Linked DNA regions of Homo sapiens. The protein of the gene in region 2 purifies or fractionates together with the protein of the main gene of each other region. This does not show direct contact. Each region holds a gene or a part of one and is shown on either strand. Other genes may lie near its edges.

Region 1 (3,500 bases), on a different chromosome or scaffold from region 2:
AGAGACAAATGCCTTTCCAATCTTCAAGTGGTGGCTCTTTCTCCACCTAATAGTCAGTGGACAGTCTCCAATATGGCCCTGCCGGTTAATCATTACACTCACATACTTTTATATTGGTTGATTCTGAGTGACCCCCACCCAGGCCCCAATCCTAGGAACCTCTGGCCATTCCATCCATGATTTAGCAAATAAAGAGTTAATGCCTGGCAAAGAGGGCTGAGGGGGAGGTCCTCCAGGGCTCCCAGGCTACAGACAAATCCACTGTGCCTGTACTTCCAGTCTCACCTTTTTTGGGCACTTGCTGCCACCGATAGTCCCAGTTTTGCTGTGTGGCAGCCTGGCGTGAAGCTTCCATGCCTTCCCGGCTGGAAAAGCGTCGGATATCCCAGAGTTTGATGGTCTGGTCTTTAGAGTTGGAGATCAGATACCGGGCATCACCCTATGAATCCAAAGGTGGATAGTGAAGCATCAGAGCTTGCAAATGTCGGCGCCTGTCAGTCTAGTTCCCGTTCTCTAGTTGAGCAGAAGAACTCTGGCCTCTGGCTTTACTTGCCTCTCTTCATCCAGGTGAACTCATTTCCAGCGTTCTGCCTCAGATCCTACCACCTGGCTAGGTTTTCCTTTCCTTGCCCAGGCTACTGGCCGGCTTTCCTATTCTAGCCTTAATCAGATTGTCTTCCATTTTTCTTTTTTTAATTTTTAATTAACTAATTTTTTTTTGAGATGGAGTCTTGCTCTGTCACCCAGGCTGGAGTGTAGTGGGGTGATCTCGGCTCACTGCAAGCTCCGCCTCCCGGGTTCACGCCATTCTCCTGCCTCAGCCTCTTGAGTAGATGGGACTACAGGCGACTGCCACCACACCCAGCTAATTTTTTTGTATGTTTAGTAGAGACGGGGTTTCACCATGTTAGCCAGGATGGTCTCGATCTCCTGACCTCGTGATCTGCCCGCCTCGGCCTCCCAAAGTGCTGGGATTACAGGCATGAGCCACGGCATCTGGCCTTAGTTTTTTTTTTTTGTTTTTTTTTTTAAATAAATAGAGATGAGGTCTCGCTAGGTTTCACAGGCTGGTCTGGAACGCCTGAGCTCAAGTGATCCTCCCACCTCAGCCTCCCAAAGTGCTAGGATTACAGGTGTGAGCCGCTGTACCTGACCGGTCTTCCATTTTTCTTGTACGGAAAGCCCTGCCCTGCTCCTTGAGGACTGGTGAGTACAGATGGAATTCATGTTCCCTGGCTTGAGCCCCTTCCCTAAACTCCAACTCTTACAAACCTTGGTTAATAAGGAGCTTGTCAAATTCCCACACCAGTCCGCTTTCATGCCCTCCTGGGCAACTAGAACCTTAGCGGCCTGGCTGTACAGTCCTGACTTCTGGCCCACCTTGCTGTCAATGAAGGTGATGCCATCCTGGTGTCCAGCCAGTGCACCCACAGGCTTGGGGTCATCCTCCCGCATGGTGCGTCGATCCCACACTTTGCAGATGGCATCATCTCCCCCAGAGAACAGGATTTGGGAGCTTATATCAGCAAAGGCCACTGCATTCACATCATCCTCATGGGACTCAATCTAGGCGAAAAGGAGGCCAGGATATAAGACCTCTTTCTAGGTCTTATAAAAAGCCAAAAACCAGGAGGCAGAGGCTCTATCTCAGGAGCCATACCTGAAGGGTGCGCCGGTTCTGTTCTCGGTCAAAGACATACAGGCAGCCATCATTGGCCCTGAAAGGGAAGGGATAAAGGAGGGTCCTGGAGCCATGATCGAGAGGACCAACGTGGTATATGCTCTAGAGAGTTCCACTGAGAAATCCTGCTCTGGGTCAAGCCCTTTGCTCTTTTTATACAGGAAGTGGGGGAAGAGTTAGCTGTGTTTCAAGGAGGCTTGACACCTCCAATCTCGTGCTGGGGAAATGGAGAGCAAGGGGTGAAGCAACTTGTAAATCCTGACCTTGGGAGAAGGTCTGGTTGTTCTCTGCAGCTGCCAGTGCCATCTGTGTAACAGCAGAACTCATCTCTGGCAGAACCCCCATCTTGTTATTGAGGGAAACATACCCCACAAGCACTTACCCTCCTAGTACTTCTCGTCCATCTGAGGAGACAGCAATGGAGAAGACAGCAAAGCGACGCTCATCTGGCCTAAAAGCAAGAAGGAGCTGGGTTAAGTGGACTTCCTTCAGCTTTTGTTAATCTACATAAAATCTGACAACGGTTGTAAGGCACATCCCCAGGGGAAAAAAGAAGTCTGGCTAACATGCACCATAATGCAGATGCTCAGTGAGAACCCAGAAATCATCCTGCAACCATCTATTTTACCCAGTCCTCTGGCTGACAAGATGGTGCTTCCCTCCCAGGAATGCACACAGACCCACCAGTATACTTTTTCCCCTAAACAGAACTTCCAACTCAAGAGGTTTGCTCCCAAAGAGCTTCCCTTGAGAAGTTTCTGATGAGTCTGACCAGAAAGGGAAGCCAGTACCTGAGATCCAGGGCAGTGTGTGTATCTCCCTCACCATAGATATTGCAGATATGAACTAAGAGAAGCAAGAAAAACAAGAATCTTTCAGGGATGGGGGAAGAAGAGTGGAAGTGAAGCTAGGGAAGAGATCAAACAGGGGACAAGGGTACTGGAGCACTTTGGGAGTGATTTTCCCAGGACAAAGTGAGGGATCCTGGCTCAGAGGGGACAGGCACATGGAAACCTCAGGTCCCAGGCTGGAGAGTCAGTGGAAGCCTGGTGCATACTCACTGTAATCAGACCAGCTAGAGTAGAGGAAGTGGTTCCCATCAGGGGTGAAGGCCACATCCAAGACGCTCCAGCCTACGTCGCGGGCCTTGATGCTCTTGAATTTACGGAAACGGCCATATCGGCAGTCATAGAGTCGGATTGTCTGGTCTGTGTAAGTAAAGATCAGGCAGAATTATGGGACAGTTTCCTTGTAACTTTTCTAGATTAGACATCTCCCACTCAGTGTACCTGTGGAGTCTTCCCTTTATCATGGGAAACATGGTCTGGCTAAGCATCCTTAAGCCAGGTCTGAGCTCCCCGTCTGTGGCTTTCTAGCCTCAGTCAGGGGGAATGTCCCATGTTCCAGGAAAAGATAGTTTATAGGACCAGGGTCTGGTACCTTGGCAAGCAGACATGAATATTTGACCATCTTTGCTGTAGATGCCACAGAAAGCCTTCTGAGAGTAGCTATCAGTGAAGCCCAGATCATTGGGCAAGAAGCTAGGGAAGGAGAGAGAAAGTGAGGGTGAGGGGTGCTCAGGATAAGGAGTGTCCCAATCAGCAGAATCCTAACAGAGCTGGAATATCAGAACAGTCATTCTTCCCTTTTGGCTGTGAGTGCAATCCCGTCTTTCAACCATTCCACCATCCTCTAAATTTCTACAATTTTCTACACTTTTCTACTTTGTTTACTCTCAAAGTTTCAACCCCATTTAACCTAACCTTTAATATCTCTGAGGCTCCTTTAACACCTACCCCTTCAAAGTTTAGGAGATAAG
Region 2 (3,500 bases):
CTCCGGCTCACTAAGCCCCAGCTCCCAGGTAGCTACAGGCCCACCCCAAACCCTCAGCTGACACCAGGGAATCACATTTTTGCAAGGAGAGGCACAAAAGACATGCTAGATATCCCCCTCCTCCTTTTAGCCTCACCATTCATGCAGGGTCTTGACAATATTATTGATATCCTTCTTTCGGATGTCACGGCCAATGCAGAAATCCACTTCCAGCAGCTGGTTTCGCTGGTCCAGCTTGCCCTGGATGATGTCAGTGTAGACAGCCTCAATGATAAGGTCTTCTAGTTCCCGGAGATTCCGCATCTCCAGGTCTTTCAGCAACACGGAGTAGGGGATACACTGTAGATAAGGCCATGTGATCATTATAAAAACCATCTGGCAAGCATTAGCGAAAATGCAGGTATTACTCCCATAGCCAACAGCTGCCTCTAGGCTCGGGAAACGCAGGCTAGTGGTAATTATTAATAGCTAGGGCAACAAGAGGTGGATAAATGAACCATGAGACCTAGAAGACCCAACATCTAAGAAAGCAACCTCCTGGTTCTCTGCCTCCTTGGCTTCACCCAGCCTTCAGATTTCACATGCTGCAGCATACTTGTAGAGATCCTAAAAACTTGTACCAGTGGAGAGAAAGGGAACTACTGAGTATATGCCACTCTGCCACCTTCTGGAAGCTTTCAGACTTTGCTAGATCACCATAAATCTCCAACAGATCCCAGTCACTGGAAAGAGCTGGCTACTTGCCCAGCAGAGTGCAAAAACAAACAAAAAAAACTTGCAGGCCAGCATATCTACCTATAGGTGGCCAATGGGTACTGCCAGCTCAGATGTCACCCTGAAGTTTGTATCTGTTTTCTCAGACACAACCAATATGAATTCCCCAACAATAGTTCTTTATTGGGCTGTACCAACATTCTTTACTACACTTGAGAAGTCCACAATCAGTACAAGAAAAAAGGTCAGGTCCTCATTTCACAACAAAATAGGCCTCCCACCTGAAATGCTAGGCTGAGAATCAGAAATGTGCCATTAGATCAGATAAAATGATTTCAGCAACTGAAATTGCAATCCAAGAACAAAAAAACCAAGTGCAGTGGCTCACACCTGTAATCCCAACACTTTGGGAGGCTGAGATGGGAGGATCGCTTGAAGTCAGGGGGTTGAGACCAGCCTAGGCAACATGGTGAGACCCTTGTCTCAATTTAAAAAATTTTTTAAGTTAAAAAGGCCGGGCACGGTGGCTCATGCCTGTAATCCCAGCACTTTGGGAGGCCGAGGCAGGTGGATCACCTGAGGTCAGGAGTTCAAGACCAGCCTGGCCAACGTGATGAAACCCTGACTGTACTAAAAAATATAAAAATTATGGGCATGGTGGCAGGTGCCTGTAATTCCAGCTACTCGGGAGGCTGAGGCAGGAGAATCACTTGAACCCAGGAGGTGGAGGTTGCAGTAAGCCCAGGTTGCGCCACTGCACTCCAGCGCAGGCAACAGAGCAACACTCTGTCTCAAAAAAAAAAAAAAAAAATTAGCCGGGCGGGGTGGTCCACGCCTGTAATCCCAGCTACTTGGGGCTGAGTAGGGGAATCGCTCGAATCTGGGAGGCAGAGGTTGCAGTGAGCTGAGATCACACCACTGCATTCCAGCCTGGGCGACAGAGTGAGACTCCGTCTCAACAACAACAACAACAAAAAATCTAGCAAGTCCGACATAGCAAGTTTTTCCTCCAGCATGGGCATAGTTCACTGTGTACTGAGCAACAGATTAAGCTGTTAACTTGCCTTGAGATGCCTTGCTATTTGAAAAATGTATATCTTTAACAGCAGTCTCCCCTTAATATGGCAAAATGATCATGCCACATGCGGCACCACAGCATGCCAGGACTAAGACCTGCTGAGTCAATCACTTCTGGGCATACTTTTCCTGTATGGAATGGGGAGTACTTTTCTACACCATTTTATCTTTTCCTCTGTCAAGCAAATTTTATGCATTTATGATGTGACTCTCCTATGTGCAGCTGGGACTTCCTTCATTGATGTCAATGAGACAGCTGACTTGGGGTAAGGAGGAAGACAAGAGAAGGCTCAGTACCGTACCTTCATTCTTGATGCCAAGCTCACGATGGTAAGATGCTTCAGCTTGTTCTGCTGAGCTGTGCTCAGTTCTGGCAGGCTCTCCTTGTTGGCTGCTCAGTCCCACCCACCACAAAAATCAAGACACAAAATAAAATTAGGATTTCTTTTATGGAATAAGCTCACCAACTCCCCAAACCAAATCTACTACTGAATCACTATCATGACTTTGCACTTATTCATTTGACAAATATTCCTGTCTTCTTTGGAAGACTATGTACTTCCAAAGAAGAAAAGACTCAGTTTCTACAAACACAGAGTTTAGTCTCCTAAAAAGCAAACAAGCAAAATGATGTGGCAATTATCTTAATGGAGTACTATTTGTGCCCCTTGTGACATTCAATTAAATTAAACATATCTTCATCGAGCATCTGTTGTGTGCAATGCTCTGTACTGAGAAGAATCAAGGATGAACAAGATGGGCTTTGCCAGGGCTGCTGCATGGCACAACTCCAGGGCCACCAACCACCTGGAGGTGTGCAACTTCATGGCCCTGGACTTGTCCTCGGTCTTACAATCAGATGTTTCCATAGCTACAAATCCAAGGCAGAACTACCAGAAGAAAGGTACAAGCTACTAGAAGAGAGGAGGAGAGGGATGGGGAGGAGACAGGGGTAAGAGAAAGAGATGAAAGGGGAGGGGAGAGGGAAAGAGAACAGTATCATTTGGAAAGTACAGAAGATAAAAAGAAAGAATTCATGGAAGAGATGGAGTTTGAGTTGAGCCTTGAGAAAGAGGCAAAATTTCAATAATAACCATAAATGATAATAACAGCAAGGGCAGCAGCTGCAGCAGCTAACATAAATAGCAAGCTTTACATCTTGTGGATTGCATAGATCCACACGTACATACACACATCCAGTTCATCTTCACAACAACCCGCAAGACTCCAAGTGTCCTCAATTCCTTAACGATAATTCTGGATTCCAAAAAACTATATCCAAACTGATTTTTTCTTAAGCATGGTGCTGAAATTCACCTGGTGGGAATTTCTAACCTGTACGGAGACAGGCTTTTTATCCCACTTGTTTCCACATTCCTCTGGGAGTGTTACATAAAAAGGCATGCGCATCATATTACCTTTTTAAAGTCCCAAAAATTCTAAATTCTGAAACATCTAACTTCGAGGAGTGTAGGTAAGGAATAATGGGCTTGTATTGTTACTCCCACTTTACAGACGAGGAAATTGAGCTGCATAAGGTTACTTCATTTGTCAACGAACACACAACTAGTAGAAGTGGAGCCAGACTGGCTACAGGCAGTCTGCTAACAGAGTCTGTGCAATGCTGCCTCTTTAGTAAGCAAGGACAGAAAAACAGAACACATTCCCTGGAACAAAGGGAAGGTCAGAAAAAAATGTGGTGTACCAGG
Region 3 (3,500 bases), on a different chromosome or scaffold from region 2:
TCTCGAACTCCTGACCTCAAGTGATCTGCCCACCTCGGCCTTCCAAAGTGCTGGGATTACAGGCGTGATCCACTGTGCCCGGCCTCTATTTTTCTTGATAAGACATTCTGAAACTGTTATGAATTTACTAATATATTACAAGCCAATCATATATTTCCTGCTACATGAGAGGATACAGTCTTAAAAACAAAAAAACATAAACCAACCCATAAAGTCCTCCTAAGTTCAGCATCAGGGAGTTCAGTTGCAAGCTTAAGATTTTCAAAGCTGATTTTCTCTCTGGGTCTTTGGTTCCATGCAAACAATACAGCGAGCTGAAACGTGGTTACCTCCAAATCATATTGACCAACTTCATTCTTAAATGTTATCTATAATAGATAAAACAGATTTTTAATAAAGAATCTCATGATGATTCTCTCTTAATATCTATGACATGAATTTATATATGAAAAAGGTTGCTGTCTTCCAGTATCCACTCTTTCACAGTAATAAACATTTTAGAAGACGTTAATGACTGCCCAGAATACACGCTCATCTCCCAGCTTTCCATGTAACAAAATGTGGCCAAGTGACTGAGTACTGGCGGATGCAAATGGAAAATGACAGAGGAAACTTCTAGAAGTTGTCCCTAATGAAAGGTGTAAGCTACCCTCACCTTTTGCTTTCTGTTGCCAGGAATACTGAGATAGTTGGGATCATGTTGAATTCTGTAGACAACGGCAGTATCTTAAGTATGATGGTATAACCAGAAGCCTATGTCCCTATCAACTTCATGAAAAAAATTCACTATTTCTGCTCAAACTTTTACATGTGAGAGAGGCAAAAATCTATTTTGTTTAAGCAATTCTGCGGAGTCCTGCTACTTTCATCCAAACTGAAAGCTGAAATAACTAACACACTATCTACTTACAATTCCATTTGACATGAGATGATGCCAATGTAATTTTCTACCACTATGATTTTTTTTGTAGAATTCTTCTACTTCCGGTATCAAGTCCTCCAGTTCAGTAGGAAGTGAGACAAAGACTTTCTCAGAACTTCTTGACCAGGCGCCAGCATTCAGAATTTTTATATTAACTGAATCAGCTATAGAGAAGAATATCAGGAATATAAAGTAAATTAACAATGGATAAAATTCAAAATAAATACAGGGTAACTTTGGGTGAAAAATCAATAAGACTATAAAGATTTTGTTAAAAGTGTCCTTTTGTTTTGAAATAAAGATCTGTAAATCTAACACACTGCTTTGATAGCTGTCTCCACGGAAATGGACTTCATAACATCTTTCGATCTATTACTGCTGAGGTTTATTTTTAATTTACTGGAAAACAAAGATATTCTTCTAAGTTTAAAAAATATATACATGTAATTATAAAATAATACCTGGTAATGCCAATTTATTATTTTTGTGCATTTCCTTAAAAGCTTGGTTCAAATCTTCAGATACTTTTATGTCCTGAAACATTCTAGCAAGCTTGTTTACATAATCCGCTGGCATACCAACTTCCTATAAATATAAACCAAAGAAGGAAGAGGTAATAAATACATAATCTGATATATTACTGGGAAAAATTTTAATAGAAAAACTAAGTCTTAAATGTTTTAATACAAAATTTTTCTCATTTATTAGAATTTTATTGTCTAATACCTATGAAATTTGCTACTTAGAAACAAAATACGGTATTACAAGGGGTCCCTGCTTTGCGCATTTTTAGTATGTATGAATTTCAGTTACCACAGTACAGTTAAATAATACCAATTCCCCAAGAACAAAGCTCAACTTTCAGTTGACACTATATAATAAATTTAACTGCATGAAGTAAAAACTTTATTTCTAGCTCTTTGATCCACAAATCATGACAAAAGTAACAATGACTAACCACAATACTTCTTTCAAAATCTATTAGTTGGCATGGTGTGTAATCCTAGCACTTTGGGAGGCTGAAGCAGGAGGATCACTTGAAGCCAGGATTTTAAGACCAGCCTGGGCAACACAGTGACACCCCCATCACTACAAAAAAATTTTAAAAGTTAGCAGGATATGGCGGCATACTGCCGAGATAGTCCCAGCTACTCGGAAGGCTGAGGTGGGTGGATTGCTTGAGCCCAGGAGTTTAAGCTCTGATTGTGTCACTGCGCTCCAGCCTGGGCAACAGAAGATCCTGTTGCTTGAAAAAATTAAATAAATAAATTTTTAAAAAATGTAAACACAACCTATTAGTCATTTGTTTATTCAGTTAAACTGCAGACAGCAAAGTATGCAGTTTCATTGCATCCTTGTCTTCCAGTAATAAACCCACATGACTACTTACAAAAAAGAATAATCAAACAAGATAATTGGCAAAGATATAAAAGTAAACAGGAAATGAAAAGTGATAATGCTGGAAATGAAAATAAAATAGAACATAAATGGAGTTATAGAAGAAAGCTGACTGTGGTAGTAAGGCTGACAATGCCAGTGTTGAGGAACTTAGTGAAAGCAAATTACCAACATAAAAGATAAAAGTGGTGAGTGACAAAAAAGATAAGATACCCTAGAAGAAGTGATCCTGGCAAAAATGCTATAAAGGAATTCTCAGTATTTCATGACACTGACAGCCCAAAAGATAAAATGCTAGAAGATCATCCAAATTACAGGGGGTGTGACAACTCTCCAAGGCAAAGAAAAGATGCTTACTCTGTCAAGTTACACAAGAAGGCAAAAGCTATTCAAACTACTCTTTATTAACAGCTTTACTGTGTCAGATAATTTATCTACCATAAAATCTACTATTTTAAAGTATACAATTTGGCTGGGCTCATGCCTGTAATCCCAGCACTTTGGGAGGCTGAGGCGGGTGGATCACCTGAGGTCAGGAGTTCAAGACCAGCCTGGCTAACATGGTGAAACCCATCTCTGCTAAAAATACAAAAATTAGCTGGGCATGGTGGCATGCGCCTGTAATCCCAGCTACTCAGGAGGCTGAGGCAGGAAAATCGCTTGAACCTGGGTGGCAGAAGTTGCAGTGAGCCAAGATCGCACCACTGCACTCCAGCCTGGGCAACAAAGTGAGACTCTGTCTCAAAAAAATATAAAAAATAAAAATAAAAATAAAATATACAGTGTAATGAAGTTTAGTATATCTACAGAACTGTGCAACCATCACCACTATCTAATTTTAGAACATTTTCATCACCCCAAAAAGAAACCCCATACTATTTACAGTCACTCGTCATTTCCCCTCCTGGCCCCAACTCCTGGAATTTGTGGATTTGCCTATTCTGGACACTTCACATTAGTGGAATCATACGATATGGTCTTTGGGATTGGCTTCTTTCACTCAGCATTATGTTTTCAAAGTTCACCTAATATTGCAGCATGTATTATTAGTTTATTCCTTTTTATCACAAAAAATATTCCATTGTATGGATAAATCACATTTTATTCATTAGCTCACTGACATTTTGGGTTGTTTCCACTTTTTGACTATTATTAGTAATCTTGCCATGAACATTTGTTT
Region 4 (3,500 bases), on a different chromosome or scaffold from region 2:
CTGAATTAAAACAAGGCTGAGATATTTTTAAAAATTTACATATGGCAAATCCATGTTTCATTCTTTGAAAAGCAACCTACAATAGAGAAAGACTAAGTCACTGAATTAATAGATGTAACTAACATTATTTATAATGTTAAACTATATAAAAGAGGCCAGGCACAGTGGCTCACACCTGTAATCCCAGCACCTTGGAAGGCCAAAGAGGGCGGATCTCTTGAGGTCAGGAGTTCAAGACCAGCCTGGTCAACATGGCAAAACCCTATCTCTACTAAAAATATAAAAATTAGTCAGGTGTGGTGGCAGACACCTATAGTCCCAGCTACTTGGGAGGCTGAGGCAGGAGAATCACTTGAACCCAGGAGGCAGAGGTTGCAGTGAGCTGAGATCGCGCCACTGCACTACAGCTTGGGTGACGAGTGAAACTCTGTCTCAAACAAGCAAACAAGACACAGTATCAGTCTGAATTTTTAATTCTCCAGAATAACAAAGCTTAAAGCAAAAGGAAATATTCCACCTCTCCTCCTCCAAAAGAAAAATCAACAGGGTTCAAGGCACCCCGGAAGTTTCTACAGATCCAACACCACAATCTTAACCTAACACTACTACTGTCTCAAAACTTTTAAGAATCAAAGGGATTGTCTCCAATAAGCCTTTCCCAATGAAAAGCCAAATATAAAGTACTGATATAGAAATCTATACATTCTTAAAGGTAACCCAAAGATTATGCTAACTGCAATATGACAGATACGTTACCAGTAAGATTCAAACCCAGGCACAGAGCCAAATCACTCTGAATAGATATTGTGATTAACTGATTACTGAGAGAGGGTTCAGTCATACATCTCATAGATCAATAACTTGTTATAAATCTCATAACATTCCAAATCGCTGCTTGTTTTTCCAAGATTTAACATGAGCCAGTCATAAGTCCTCATAATATTAAGATTCTAGGGCTGATCCTGTCATCAATTTACTTAAAAACAACTGATAGTTGGACAGGCCTGGTGGCTCACACTTGTAATCCCAGCACTTTGGTAAGCCGAGGCAAGTGAATCATGAGGTCAGGAGTTCAAGACCAGCCTGGCCAACATGGTGAAACCCCGTCTCTACTAAAAATACAAAAAAATTAGCTGGGGGTGGTGGTGGGCGCCTGTAATCCCAGTTACTTGGGAAGCTGAGGCAGGAGAGTCTCTTAAATGCCAGAGGCGGAGAATGCAGTCAGCCGAGATTGTGCCACTGCACTCCAGCCTGGGTGACAGTGTGAGACTCCATCTCAAAAAATAATAATAATAAAAAATAACTGGCTGGGTGTGGTGGCTCACACCTGTAATCCCAGCACTCTGGGAGGCTGAGGCAGGCAGATCACAAGGTCAGGAGATTGAGACCATCCTGGCTAACACAGTGAAACCCCGTCTCTACTAAAAAAATACAAAAAATTAGCCAGGCATGGTGGCGGCTGCCTGTAGTCCCAGCTACTTTGGAGACTGAGGCAGGAGAATGGCGTAGACCCAGGAGGCAGAGCTTGCAGTGAGCTGAGATCGCGCCACTGCGCTCCAGCCTGGGCGACAAAGCGAGACACCGTCCCAAAAAAAAATAAAAATAAAAATAACTGTTAGGGCCAGGCGCGGTGTGGCTCACACCTGTAATCCCAGCACTTTGGGACACTGAGGAAGGCGGACCACAAGGTCAGGAGATCAAGACCATCCTGGCTAACACGGTGAAACTCCATCTCTATGAAAAATACAAAAAATTAGCCGGGCATGGTGGCAGGCGCCTGTAGTCCCAGCTACTCGGGAGGCTGAGGCAGAATGGTGTGAACCCGGGAACCAGAGACACAGCCAGACTCTGTCTCAAAAAAAAAAAAAAAAAAAAAACTGATAGTGCATATGAAACATTGCTTTCAATCACAGCCAGACATTTTTCCAGAATACACAAAGAACAGGCAGATAAGGTAGAACACAAAACAAACAGTGCAAACTTTTGTAAAGTCTCACAAAAAGAAACAGCTTTTTACAGCGAGGGAGGAAGGGCATAAGGGTTGAAAAACGGTTGGGTACTATGTTCAGCACCTGAGTGACGGGATCATTGTATCCTAAACCTCAGCATCACACAATATACCCGGGTAACAAACCTACGTGTGTACCTCCTGAATCTAAAATGAAAGTTGAAAAAGATAAAAATAAAGAAACAAGCAGCCTGGCCAACATAGTGAAACCTTGTCTCTACTAAAAATACAAAAATTAGCTGAGAGTGGTGGAGGGCGCCTGTAGTCCCAGCTCGGGAAGTGGAGGCTGCAGTGGGCTGAGATTGAGCCCCTGCACTCCAGACTGAGAGACTCTGTCTCAAAAAAAAAAAAGAAACAAGAAACAAGGCCGGGCACAGTGGATCACGCCTGTAATCCTAACACTTAGGGAGGCTGAGGTGGGAGAATTGTTTGAGCCCAGGAGTTCGAGACCAGCCTGGGCAACACAATGAAACTCTCTTAGTTCTGTCACCCAGGCTGGAGTATAGTGGCTCACTGCAGCCTCCACCTCCTGGGTTCAAGTAATCCTCTCACCTCAACCTCCCTAGCAGCTGGGATTACAGGCCTGCACCACCACACCTGGCTAATTTCTGTATTTTTTGTACAGACAGGGTTCGCCATGTTGCCCAAGCTGGTCTCAAGCTGCTGGGCTCAAGTGATCCACCCACCTCAACCTCCCAAAGTGCTGGGATTACAGGCCTGAGCCACCGTACGTGGCCGGAAACAGCTTTTTAAACAACTCCACACCTGTAGGTCAAAAACTTAACGAGACCAGCCTGGCCAACATGGTGAAGCCCCATCTCTACTAAAAATACAAACTCCAGCCTGGGTGACAGAGCGAACACCATCTCAAAATAAATAAATAAATAAATAAATGAACTTAACAAGGGCAGGGACCAAATCAGAAAATGCTGCAGTACTCCACAGTTTTATCCTCTTTCTACATTCTCTGTGTTCTCATCCTATTTCATAACTTAACTACTATTTAACACTCTAAAAAATACAAATGTCAAAGTAAAGTGTACTACTGTTTCTGCAAAGTGGGAACAATATTTGCTTATATGTCCACAAATATTTTTTTCCAAGGAGATCTAAGAAACAGCTAACAATGTTTGGCTCCAAGGAAAGCTGGATGACAAGGGTACAAGAAGTGGAGGGAGATTTTCATTCTATTCCCTACTGACAATTTTATATTTTGGTTTTCTGTTTGTTTTAGAGACAGGGTCTCACTCTGTCACTCAGGCTGGAGTGCAGTGGTGCAATCACAGATCACTGCCACTTCCAACCTGGTCATCTGGCCTCAGCTTCCCAACAGCGGGTACTACAGGCGTGCGCCACCACGCCTGGCTAATGTTTTTTAAATTATTTTTTGTAGACATGGGGTCTCACCATGTTGCCCAGACTAACATCTTAAATTTTGAGCCATGTGAATACAGTTTTTGTTCAAAACATTAGTATACCAATAAATAAATGC

What was found. The genes of interacting proteins can lie anywhere in the genome.
Region 1: the proteins of COPS7B (region 2) and DCAF11 purify together in Homo sapiens (affinity purification with mass spectrometry; 3 studies listed by BioGRID and IntAct, with this or other methods). This does not show direct contact.
Region 3: the proteins of COPS7B (region 2) and CUL5 purify together in Homo sapiens (affinity purification with mass spectrometry; 3 studies listed by BioGRID and IntAct, with this or other methods). This does not show direct contact.
Region 4: the proteins of COPS7B (region 2) and CUL2 purify together in Homo sapiens (affinity purification with mass spectrometry; 2 studies listed by BioGRID and IntAct, with this or other methods). This does not show direct contact.

The regions. Positions count from the first base shown.
Region 1 is NC_000014.9:24,117,777-24,121,276, reverse strand, and holds part of DCAF11 (DDB1- and CUL4-associated factor 11), read right to left. Parts: intron 3,223-3,500; coding exon 3,122-3,222; intron 2,890-3,121; coding exon 2,743-2,889; intron 2,528-2,742; coding exon 2,473-2,527; intron 2,133-2,472; coding exon 2,064-2,132; intron 1,719-2,063; coding exon 1,661-1,718; intron 1,567-1,660; coding exon 1,381-1,566; intron 440-1,380; coding exon 286-439; intron 1-285. UniProt on the Homo sapiens protein: May function as a substrate receptor for CUL4-DDB1 E3 ubiquitin-protein ligase complex.
Region 2 is NC_000002.12:231,792,945-231,796,444, reverse strand, and holds part of COPS7B (COP9 signalosome complex subunit 7b), read right to left. Parts: intron 2,183-3,500; coding exon 2,094-2,182; intron 340-2,093; coding exon 137-339; intron 1-136. UniProt on the Homo sapiens protein: Component of the COP9 signalosome complex (CSN), a complex involved in various cellular and developmental processes.
Region 3 is NC_000011.10:108,092,398-108,095,897, reverse strand, and holds part of CUL5 (cullin-5), read right to left. Parts: intron 1,508-3,500; coding exon 1,384-1,507; intron 1,087-1,383; coding exon 911-1,086; intron 369-910; coding exon 207-368; intron 1-206. UniProt on the Homo sapiens protein: Core component of multiple cullin-5-RING E3 ubiquitin-protein ligase complexes (ECS complexes, also named CRL5 complexes), which mediate the ubiquitination and subsequent proteasomal degradation of target proteins.
Region 4 is NC_000010.11:35,083,842-35,087,341, forward strand, and holds part of CUL2 (cullin-2), read right to left. Parts: intron 1-3,500.